2 separate regions of the Homo sapiens genome follow, and region 1 is linked to region 2. Evidence: fine-mapped expression QTL. A gene starts in region 2. The other region holds a variant in brackets. All regions are shown on one strand. Distances are from middle to middle.

Region 1 (5,378 bases), 520 kb before region 2:
AAGAGACATTTTCCTATATAACTGCAATATGATGATCAAAATTTTAAAAATTAACATTGATATATTATTGCCATCTAAACTTAGAACCCAATAAATTTTCACGTTATTCCAGCAATGTTCTTTATAGCAAAAGGATCCAGTTCACAATCACCTGTTGCATTTAATTGGTGACTCTTTATTATCCTTTCATATAGAGTATGTCCTTAGGCTTTTGTTGACTTTCATGATCTTACAGTTGTTATTTTCTAGAATGTCCCTTATTTTGGATTTGCTTCCTATTTCCTCTTGAATGGATTCAAGTTATGCATCTTTGGCAGGACTATTACCAAAGTGATGTTGTAGTATTCTCTCTTTTTTTTTTGAGACGGAGTCTCGCTCAGTGGCCCAGGCTGGAGTGCAGTGGCATGATCTCTGCTCACTGCAAGCTCTGCCTCGCAGGTTCACGCCATTCTCCTGCCTCAGCCTCCCGAGTAGCTGGAACTACAGGAGCCAGTGACCACACCCGGCTAATTTTTTGTATTTTTAGTAGAGATGGGGTTTCACCGTGTTAGCCAGGATGGTCTCTATCTGCTGATCTCGTGATCCGCCTGCCTCGGCCTCCCAAAGTGCTGGGATTACAGGAGTGAGCCACCGCGCCTGGCCTATAGTATTCTCTTTCTGTCCTATCAGGTGGCACAGAATTTTGGTTTGTCCCATTACTTATAATATCCTCATTGACCATTTGTTTAAGATAGTGATTTCCAGGCCATTTCGGTACTCGTTTTTCCATGGTAATTATTAATATTTTATGGTGAGGAATTTTGAAATTATGTAAATATTTATTGTGTATTTATATATGTATATTTATTTATATACTGACTTATGTTTTCTTTTTTTGATTCAACAAGCTATACTGTGTTCTATATTTCTTTATTTTGATGCTCACAGTGTCTCCTACTTGACTTGTAGAAGCTTCTTCAGGCTTGCTTCCACGTCCTTTTGGTATGCCTCCATCATTTCTTTAGCACTTTGCTTTCTGGCACAGCAAGATGTTCCAGATTCATTGCGTTATTTTCCTGTCCCATCCAACAATTCTCCAAGGATTCCTTGTTCCTTTTATTTAATAATGGCATTTTGAAAGCAAGATATGAACAATTAGTTGTGCTTATTGCTATTGGGGTGTTGTGACTCCCAGGCCCTCTAAGTGGAAGGAATCAGGCAATATTTGTATATACACAGAGAGACACACACACAAATTCTCACACTCATATACATTCACACATTTACATCTATATTTCTGTATCTGTATCCATTGAAGCCATGACTTCACACTGATACCTAACTCCAATACAATACCACCAGGTTCATTCTAGTTTTCTCCCTTTCTATATTTGTAACTCTCTTCAATGACAATGAGAACCTTGGATCCCATTACCTTTACTTGACCAATCCCCCTATATGTAAACAATCTCCCATTTCCTGCACTCCTCGTTCCCTGCTTGGAAGCTCCACTTGACATCCTCCCAACTGTGGATTACAGTCCCTGTTTTCCAACCCACTTTGTAAACCTGTTCTGGCTGAGAAGTAGTGCAACAGACTTCCTCCCTACCCAACTCCTACCATACAGGTACCTTCCTCACACTGTTAGCAGCATGGACATGCTTCTTAACCTGCTCAGACTCTGAAACCCCGCTCCAGTCTGCCACACACTTCCTCCACATGGACACACTCTTCAACCAGATAAAACTCCAATATCTCTCACTTGGCTGTCTCCTGTCTGGGAAGCCCTCATCATAATTTTTAGGCTCTGACTCCCTGCGATAAGCTGCTCTCCCAGCATGAATGCCTTCCTCACCCTGCTCAGGCAAACACAGCTCCCTCCTCTCATCTGATAAAGACACTTACCTTGACCTTCCCCATCTGACAGTGTTGGGACTGAATTGTTGAGGAAGGGAAGGGAAGGGCTGAGGACAAGAAAAACAAACATTTAGTTCTGTTTTATGACTGAACTATGTAACTACATTACCAAACTAAAAGATATAAGCAGCATTGGGCT[T/A]AAGTTAAATTCAAAAGTAAGTATAGCCCACGTGTGGTGAAACTGCTCACAAAACAGCACTTGATCACAAACGGATCACCATCTTCATGCCCAATTGAGGATATCTTCTGTCAATAACTCCATTAAAATGATGGTAAGGTTGCCTCTGACTACATGTAAGCAGCAGAGGAGTCAATAGAATCTTTGTTTTTAACTTGGTGCAGGAAGTAAAAAGGGATATTTGTGAGCCAATCAGCAAATAGCTTCTCTCAAGCCTCTGAGATTTCTGGAGACACACCAAGTAAACATTATAGATGCTACTAAAGCAGAATGAGAGTGGGCACCTGCCTACTACCCTGGCACCTAACTTTCTGAGGAGATGGGCTCTCTCTCTCTACACACACACACACGCATGCATGCACGCACGCGCACACACACACACCTAAGATGAAAGAGACAGGGCAGCCTTTGTTAAAGGCCACAGAAGAGGTCAAGGCCCCATGTGCTGTGCATCAATGACAGAAATGGAAGAGATTGCTTCTAGTTGGCGACACCCTATGATCAGGACTGGGCCTTAAGAAATAGGTAGTACAAGGAAGAGGAAGCCAAGATAGAGAAGGGGGAAAATGGAACTCTGCTTCAGAATATCCCTAGTTTCAACCCTGATTAGGTCTTCCTTACCAGCTAAATCAGCTCCTCTTCCTCTATATGAGTGAGGCTGTTCCTACTTTGTTTGAAGATCCATAACAACCTGCCTCAAGGTCCCTTGTAAGGGAGACCAATTGTCCTCATTCCCTCTTCATTGCCCCACAGATGTACTTATTTTCTCTAAATCTGTAATTAGAATCAAATCCCAGTATGCTGGAGTGTGGGAAAGTGGGAAGATTGAAATTAGAAAATCAAATAGCTCACACACCAGATACATTACAAGCTTTTTAATATTTATATTGTTATAATGGGAAATATAACCTTACCTATTTCAGCCTCATTTTTGGTTGGGACCCCAAGACAACTGGGTGTCAACTACTGCTAAATTCCAAAGTGGAGAGTAAGGTAATAAAAGCAGGTTTTGCAATGGACATGAATGAGCACTGATTTTGTTGCACTTAAATAACCACCGACTTGCAGCCTACAAAAGACATTTGAGAGGCCAAGAAGATTGCTGGAGATTAAAAGAAAGTTTGTTTGTTTGTTTTTTTCCTGTTGAGACAAAAACAAAACAAAACAAAACAAAAAAAGCTGGAGTGCAGTGGCACAATCTCAGCTCACTGCAACCTCCACCTCCCAGGCTCAAGCCATCCTCCCACCTCAGCCTCCCAAGTAGCTGGGACTACAGTCTTGCACCACCACAGCTGGCTAATTTTTGTGGGTTTTTGTTGGTGTTGTTCTTGTTTTAGAGATGGGGTTTCACTATGTTGCCCAGGCTGGTCTCCAACTTGTGAGCTCAAGTGATCCACCTGCCTTGGCCTCCCAAAGTGCTGGGATTACAGGCATGAACCACTGCACCTGGCCTGGAAAGGAGTTTCTAATGAGAGCTGTTGGTATTCCATGAGTGCCCCCACATAAGGAAGGCAAGGGGCTTTTCATATCACATCAAGCTTGAGGCAAAAATCTTCAATTTGGCGATTCAGAGCTCCTGGAACTTGATAACATAGTAAGCATCCGAATTATCCCTGAGAAATCCAAAAAACAAGAGACTGGCTGACCAGCTACCTTGATATCAGAGTGAAGAAAGTTTGGGGAGAGCCTGGACTCTTTGAATTTGAGAGCCATTTTGGGCAAAGGATGTGTAAGTGCTTCCCGTGGACTTGACATGGGCCATATGGAAGACAGAAGTAGCTTGGAGATGTCATAGATTTAGATCATGATGGTCTTTTGGAGAAGAAAAAAAAACACCTTAAAATAAACAACCTGGAGATATACTGCTGGAAGGTTAAAGGCTAAATAAGGAGTCAAAAGCAACTAGCCCAGGGATATGTTTTTCAAGAGAACAGCAAGGGAGAGCTCCTCAACAATGGGAGACTCCCTATAGTACTCTGAAAAATGTCACACAAGAGAAGGAGTCATAGAAAGTGCCAATACTGGATGGCTATAACAGTGTCAATTATATAAGATTTTAATTTCTTCTCACCTCCTCTCTGCCCTCATTGAACAGAAACTGTTTTATGACTAGAACTGACAGGAGGATTTTTACTTTACATGAGCAGGCAGAAAAGTTATGGAGCATACCCTAGATTTCACCCAGGGGACAAGAGTAGAACTAGTTCCAAAGAACAGGTTTGCATAGGCAGCAGGAAAAAAAAGTTGGTATATTATTCATCCTACAGATTCTGCTTGTTTAATGTATTTGCCACATTGCCAATAATCTCCAGAATATGTTTGAGAATAGTTTCTGAGGATATTAGCTAAAGGTAGGAAGGAACATAATTTTAGCTACTGTGGTCAGGCATCCTTTCAACTTAGAGCCACTGCATTTGTTATTTATTCTGCCTAGAAATCTACCCTGAGATATTCACCTGTATCACTCCCTCACCTCCTTCAGCTGTTTCCTCACAAGCCTTCTTTTGTTGTCTCTTCAATAAGAACTTAAGTTCCAAGAAGACTGGGATATTTTGTTTTGTTTTGTTTTGTTCAGTCCTGTAAACCTCAACACCTAGGACAGCACCAGGCACATAATAAGTGCCTAATAATTTGTTAAATTATTATTTAATATTAATTAGCTATTAATAATAATTTTATTATTATATAATATATATTGTTATATATAATAATCATTAGCTATTAATCAATATTTGTGCATACAGCAGAGATTCTAAATCCAATCTGTTATCTCACGCAGCTGGATTCTAATTGTTTGCTCAGTTGGTTGACTGAAATATGGGTTTCTGATGGATCACACTAAACGAGATTGGTATACAAGAGATTGCTTAGTATGCTGTAGAGGCAAGAACCTAAAGAATCATGGAAAAGGGAATGTTATTGTGTATTTATCATGTATTATGAGTACATCTACTTCCTAACTATGTCCAGAGAGAGGGCCATACGATGTTACTGCTAACAGCAAATTGAGTAATGAACAGGCAAGTATATTTTTAAAGTTCTTAACATGGCTATTCTCCTTAGGCAGAGGATGCTGAGAGTGACTCTAAAGCTTGATATGTCATCTTGATTTCAGTAGTGATGCCAGGATCTCATGTAAAGTAAATTAAGAAGCTGAACTTAATCACCTGGATGATTAACCAAGGAAGGCCTGGTTACCTTAATATGCACCAGGAATGTCATGCTAGACAGAATAATTTGAGTTGGAGGAATTTTTATCCACAGCTAACTGATCCTGTGATACGATGGTAGAGACAGTATGTTT
Region 2 (5,378 bases):
GCCTCAGTTTTGGGCCTTGCCGCAGGCACAGACTTGGTCTCAGTTTTGGGCCTTGCCCCAGTAGTTGCCTGGGTCCTAACCTTGGGTCTGACCACCAGAGGGACATCATTCTCTCTCTCAGGCCCAGCGATAACCTCTTCCCCAGCCTTCTTTTCAGGCTTGGCCTGGGCACTAGGCTCAATCTCTGCCCCAGTCATGGTACAAGTTACAAAGAAAGTCAGGTAATATACTCCTCCCGTAGTCTAAACCTCAACCACAGATCTGTCACAGGTTTGTTTCTTCACACTCTGATCTTTAGGTGATTAAGGATATAAGCTTGGGAATAAGAGTTAGAGTCAATATCCAGTCCAGTAGTCACTCAGCCTCCTTCCCAAACACAGTCTCAGTCAATAATTCAATAATACAGATAGAGTGAGAACAGGTACAACCAAGCTAAAGGAAGACAGATATTTCCTGGATGGGTGCAGACCCGTTGAGGGTGGTTGTCAGCAGCAACTCCACCACCAGCAGAGCAGCCACTGGAGGTGGATCTAGGGAGAGAGAATGAAATGAGGCTTTGAGTCTCTTCCAATTGTATGAGACGTATGCAGTGCGACTGATGTTGAATGCTAGGTGGGACAGCTGGGCTTTGAGAAAGTCTCTCTGGACCGGCTGCCTCCTACAAAACAGGTCCAACAATGGTGGGAAAGTGTGTCGGCAATGGGAGGGGCCAAGAAGCCCCCAGATTGGACCCTAATCACTCCCGGACCCATGCTGGTCTCCACTACCCCGCCCAAAAGTATACCCGCTCTCATACCAACCTTCACTGATGTGGTGCAGTTTCCCCCTCCTTTTCTTGTTCAAGTGGTGTCAAGCCCCACAGCTGACAGAAGGGGGTCCTACAGACAAGTGAACATACAGGAGAGAATGGAGTGTGAGTGCTTGGTAGGTAGGTGGGCACTCTGGCCCCTGTGACAAATATCTGTCTTCCCATTCAAGAGTTCAATGTATCTATGGTTTCCTGTGTCCTAGTCCCTGCTCTCAGGTCTTTTCTGAGTCACAACCCAACCTACACCTATCTCGTGTCTCCTGCAAGAAATAAAAAGGATGCTGGCACTGTGCAAATCCGGCAGAATAGAAGTGGGTCTGCCACTTCTACTACAGGTGGAAGTGGATCTGCCACCTGCCATGCTCTCTCCAACTGTCCCCTGCATTGTCCTCTCCCCCTTCTCACTAACCTCCAGAGCTGTGAGCCAGTCTCCTCCTCCTTGCCTTTCTTGCAGAATTGGCCAGCCTTAAAGTAGGCCTATGGACAAACACATGAAAAAGTAAGACAGTCAGGATATGAGTGGTGGCAGAAGAGCACTTGGTAGACAGGCCAACGCCAAGGATAAGAGTCCCCATATTATTGGTATCTGTCTTTCAACATTCGGGGTTTTGCTGGTGGAATATTCTCGTTTTATTTGGGCCCTGCTTCAAGGTTCCAGAGATAACAACTCCTTCTCTTGACGTCATATTCTTCCCATTACTCCCTTCTCCAATTCTGAGGATTCACCACTAGGTGCGCCACATCCCCTTGCTCTGCGCAGCATAAAATGGGGGAAGGGCGCCGCATATTCTAGAAAACAGGTTGTGAATTAGTACTTGTCAGTATGTCTCCCTCATCACCCCCACCTCCAAAGCCCACCCTTTCATGCCCCCAGTTTAGGACGGTGGGGGAGACAGGTGGGGATGGAAGGTGGGGGGAGCGCCATTAGAGAGGTGAAGATTAGGAGGTGCTCCTGGATGCCTGACTTGCTCTGGTCACAGTCCCCTACCCCGATTCGGGTCCCCAATCAGTGTTTAGCGCCCAACCCCCATCCCCACACACCTCCAGAAATCCAGGCAATATTCGTGCTCCTTTATTTCAAGCCTCTCCTCTACAGACGCTCACTGTGTCCTGTCAGAATACGCCAGACCTACCGCACAGACACAAGACTTTGACATCAACCTGGAGCCTGTGGGAAGGGAAGGCACCGAGGACATGGGGCCCCACAGGCCCCTTTCGGGAATCGGGACCCGGAGTAGCAAACGCGGCTCACCTCCGGCGGACTGGGTACAGAGCCGGGACGCCGACCCCCGCCGGCCTCGCCGGGCGCCCCCCAACGGCCTTCCCGGGCGCCCCCACAGCGGCTCCCGCTCCGCCATTTCTCCCGCAGGAGCCTCCCCCACAGCCCTCTCCGGGCACAGACACCGTCGAGGGCGGGGCGCGGGCGCCTGCAAAGCTGGCTGGGAAGCGGTCAGCGCGGTTCTCCTCCAAACGATCTGGCGGTGCCTCCCGAGCCAGCCCCTCAGCCCTTGGCCAGGCCCGCTCCGGTCACCGCCTCCCCATCGCCAGGGGTCTCGGGCACTGCGCACCTCTCTCAAGCGCCTGGCTCCGACCGGATCGTCTCCTCGTTGCCAGGCTGTCAGGGTCCGCGGGGCAGGCTGCCTGCTGGTCCACCCTGCCAGACCACCCCCGCAACCCGGACCCCCACCTCATGCACCCGCACTTGCCTTCAGAGGCCCAGGGCCCAGGTCGTCGGCCTCCCCCTCCTCTCCTCAGCTCTCCTCTGGCTCACTTGGAGCCACTGCTTTCCCCGCGATCCGAACGGGAAAGACGCGTCCCGCCCCCCACGCCTCTGCACCAAAGTAGGCAGGGGCTGCGCAGGATGCGGCAAGAACCGCTCGCCGCGAGGGTGTCGGGAAGGGGGGCGGAGGGATACGGCGCGAAAGTGCTTGACGCCCCCATCCCAGGCCCACCGTAGTTCCGACCCCGAGGTGGGCAGGGCCAGGATGAGCCCCAGCCTGGGCGTGCGGGTTGGCACCAGGCTGCCTCAGGAGGCCCCCACGGACCCTAACGTGGCGACCACTACCATATTTCTGTCGCTGCTGTAATATATGGGACCAGCGGGCGGCTGGGGGCCCGGGCAGGGGACAGGATCGCGAGGTCGGGAAGAGCCGCGCTGGAGAGAACAGCGGATGGATACCAAACCGCCCCGTGATGTGTCTGCACCCCCGCCCCAACCGCCCCCCTCACAGGGACTGCTGGGTGTCTGCCCCCTCCCTCTCCCCAGTCCCCTAACCCTCCTTTCTGGAAGCTGATGGGAAAGGGGGTGTCAGCACTGCAGTGTGGGAGGGGAGAGGCGATTTCAGGCCATACAGGCCCGGGGCTCTAGGGTGGTCCTCTTGTGCGTTTCTTTCCCAGCTTCGTGGAGCCACGCAGGGGAGGAAGGTACACCTGCTCTTAAGTGAACTCCGGGGCAGGGGGCTCCCATCAAGGACTCACCACTGCCCCTCTTCTAAAAGAAGGTAGACCTAGACCTCTAACCCTAGGAAACCAACCACTGGTCTGCACCAAACTCATTCCTTTCTGCCACACTGCTCTTTCTCATTTCAAATGGTGGCTCACGTTGGCATTGCGCCGTCGCCACAGTTGCCCCCAGAAGAGGACCTTTCCCTGTCAGGACCCGCAGGAGGTCATAACAGTCCTCTCTCTTTGATGCCGCCAGGTAGGGATGGTCCTGGCTCCTCTTCGGTTCCCTGTCAAGTCTTCTCTTGCCATGACATTTGGCAGTGTGGAAATGTGGCTGGTATTCGAACCAGCTTGGATCTCAGCCACCTGCCACAACTACCTGCTGTTTCAGCAGTCATTCTCAGGAGAGGATCCCACCGTGCACCCCCCTCCCCGAGACAAAGCAACCTGGCTCCTTTTGAATCCTCTTCTTTCACCCCAACATCCGTCCTCTACTCTTGAGCCCCTCCTTTCCCTGCTTCCTGCATGGGACAGACAGAGCAATGTGGTTAAATACGAAGTTGATGTTGTTGTTACTGCTGTCCATTTGAAAACTCATTTAGGTGCTACCCTTATTGTGTTTGGCAAGTAACGGTCCCCTAAAGATGTCCATGTCCTGTTCTCCAGAACATGTACCATTTTATATTTCCTGGCAAAGGATCATTAAGATTGCTAATCAGCTGAATTTAATTTAAGATTATGCTGGATTATCTTGGCCAATGTAATTGCAAGGGTACTTTAAATGTGGAAGAGGGAGGCAGTGACTCAATATCAGATTGAAGCATCATGAGAAGGTCTACACTGGCCATTGTTGGCTTTGAAGATGGAAGGAAGCCAAGATCCAAGAAATACAGGCTGTCTCCAGAACCTGGAAAAGACAAAGAAACAGATTCTTCCCTAGAAATGCCAGAGGGATAGCTCCTCTGGCAACATCTTGATTTTAGTGTAATGAAACCCTTTGCAGATTTCCAGCCTCTAGGACTGTAAGATAATAATAAATTTGTATTATTTTAAGCCCTTCTATGTGTGGTAATTGGTTAAAGCAGCAGTATGAACCTAATACACTCACCATCCTGATGAAGTCTATTCCCCTTGACTTTCTTTACCCGTGGATCAGTCTCTGGGGAAGATCTATTTTGGAGCTCATGCCTCACCACTACAAACATCAATTGCCTCTTCTTTGCTTCCTAAAGGACAGTGATTTTTTTTATGTCCCTTATAGGTAATCTTGGAGAAAGTTCCTTTTTGCTGAAACCACTGATATTTCCCAGGTACAAAAGGGAACCCTATTCTTTTGTTGTTGTTGTTGCTGGTTTTGAGAGGGACTATCGGTGTTGTTGCCCAGGCTGGCTGGAGTGCAATGGTGCCATCTTGGCTCACTGCAACCTCCGCCTCCTGGGTTCAAGTGATTCTCCTGCCTCAGCCTCCTGAGTAGCTGGGATTACAGGTATGCCCCAAGACGCCTGGCTTATTTTTTGTATTTTTAGTAGAGATGGGGTTTCTTTATGTTGGTCAGGCTTGTCTGGAACTCCTGACTTCAGGTGATCTGCCTGCCTCGGCCTCCCAAAGTGCTGGGATTACAGGCGTGAGCCACCGTGCCTGGCCAGGAGCCCTATTCTTATGATGAATTTTCATATATTTCCATACAGCTTTTGTTACCAGATATTTACTATAACTGTACAATATTTTGCTGATATGAAGAAAACATGTGAGGATGATTCTGTACCACATCTGGAGATGAATGTTATGTATTAGAGGAAGACCACGTTAACTCTGCCTTTTTCATGGCCTTAACTGAATGGTGGATTTTCTCTGTTCCACAGCATACTCTCATGAATGAATTACAGGCTTGGGAGAACAGAGCCTGGGTCTGCTGGAATTTGTTGGCGCGTGTACATCTCTTTGCCTTCCTGAGCTGTTCTTCCCCTTTCATAACGTTACTGATGCCTTTCATTTATTCAACAAATATATATTGAGCTCCTACTTTCTCCTAGGCAGTGGGCATACAGTATAAACCAAAGAGAAATGAATCCCCTTTCTTGTGGTGCTTACATTCACCTGTGGTTTCCTGTTCAATTCCCTATTC

Evidence for each region. PIP is the estimated chance that this variant, and not a neighbour inherited with it, causes the effect. A credible set is the group of variants that fine-mapping cannot tell apart.
Region 1: its variant is the best candidate, but not a certain one, in a credible set for the expression of GPRASP2 in whole blood (TOPMed, PIP 0.77).

What each region holds. Positions count from the first base shown.
Region 1 is chrX:103,229,843-103,235,220 of GRCh38, reverse strand. No RefSeq gene overlaps it. Among named protein-coding and RNA genes, the nearest start is that of BEX4, 17 kb to the right of the region's middle. RefSeq lists a cis regulatory region at 1,502-2,084. The variant T/A (reference allele first, on the strand shown) is at 2,036.
Region 2 is chrX:102,709,689-102,715,066 of GRCh38, reverse strand. It overlaps GPRASP2 (G protein-coupled receptor associated sorting protein 2), which reads right to left and starts at 2,619. Exons shown (of 5, transcript NM_001004051.4): 1 at 2,515-2,619; 2 at 1,850-1,937; 3 at 1,218-1,285; 4 at 801-878; 5 at 1-530. The coding sequence starts at 197. It overlaps ARMCX5-GPRASP2 (ARMCX5-GPRASP2 readthrough), which reads right to left. Exons shown (of 19, transcript NR_146584.3): 5 at 1,218-1,285; 6 at 801-878.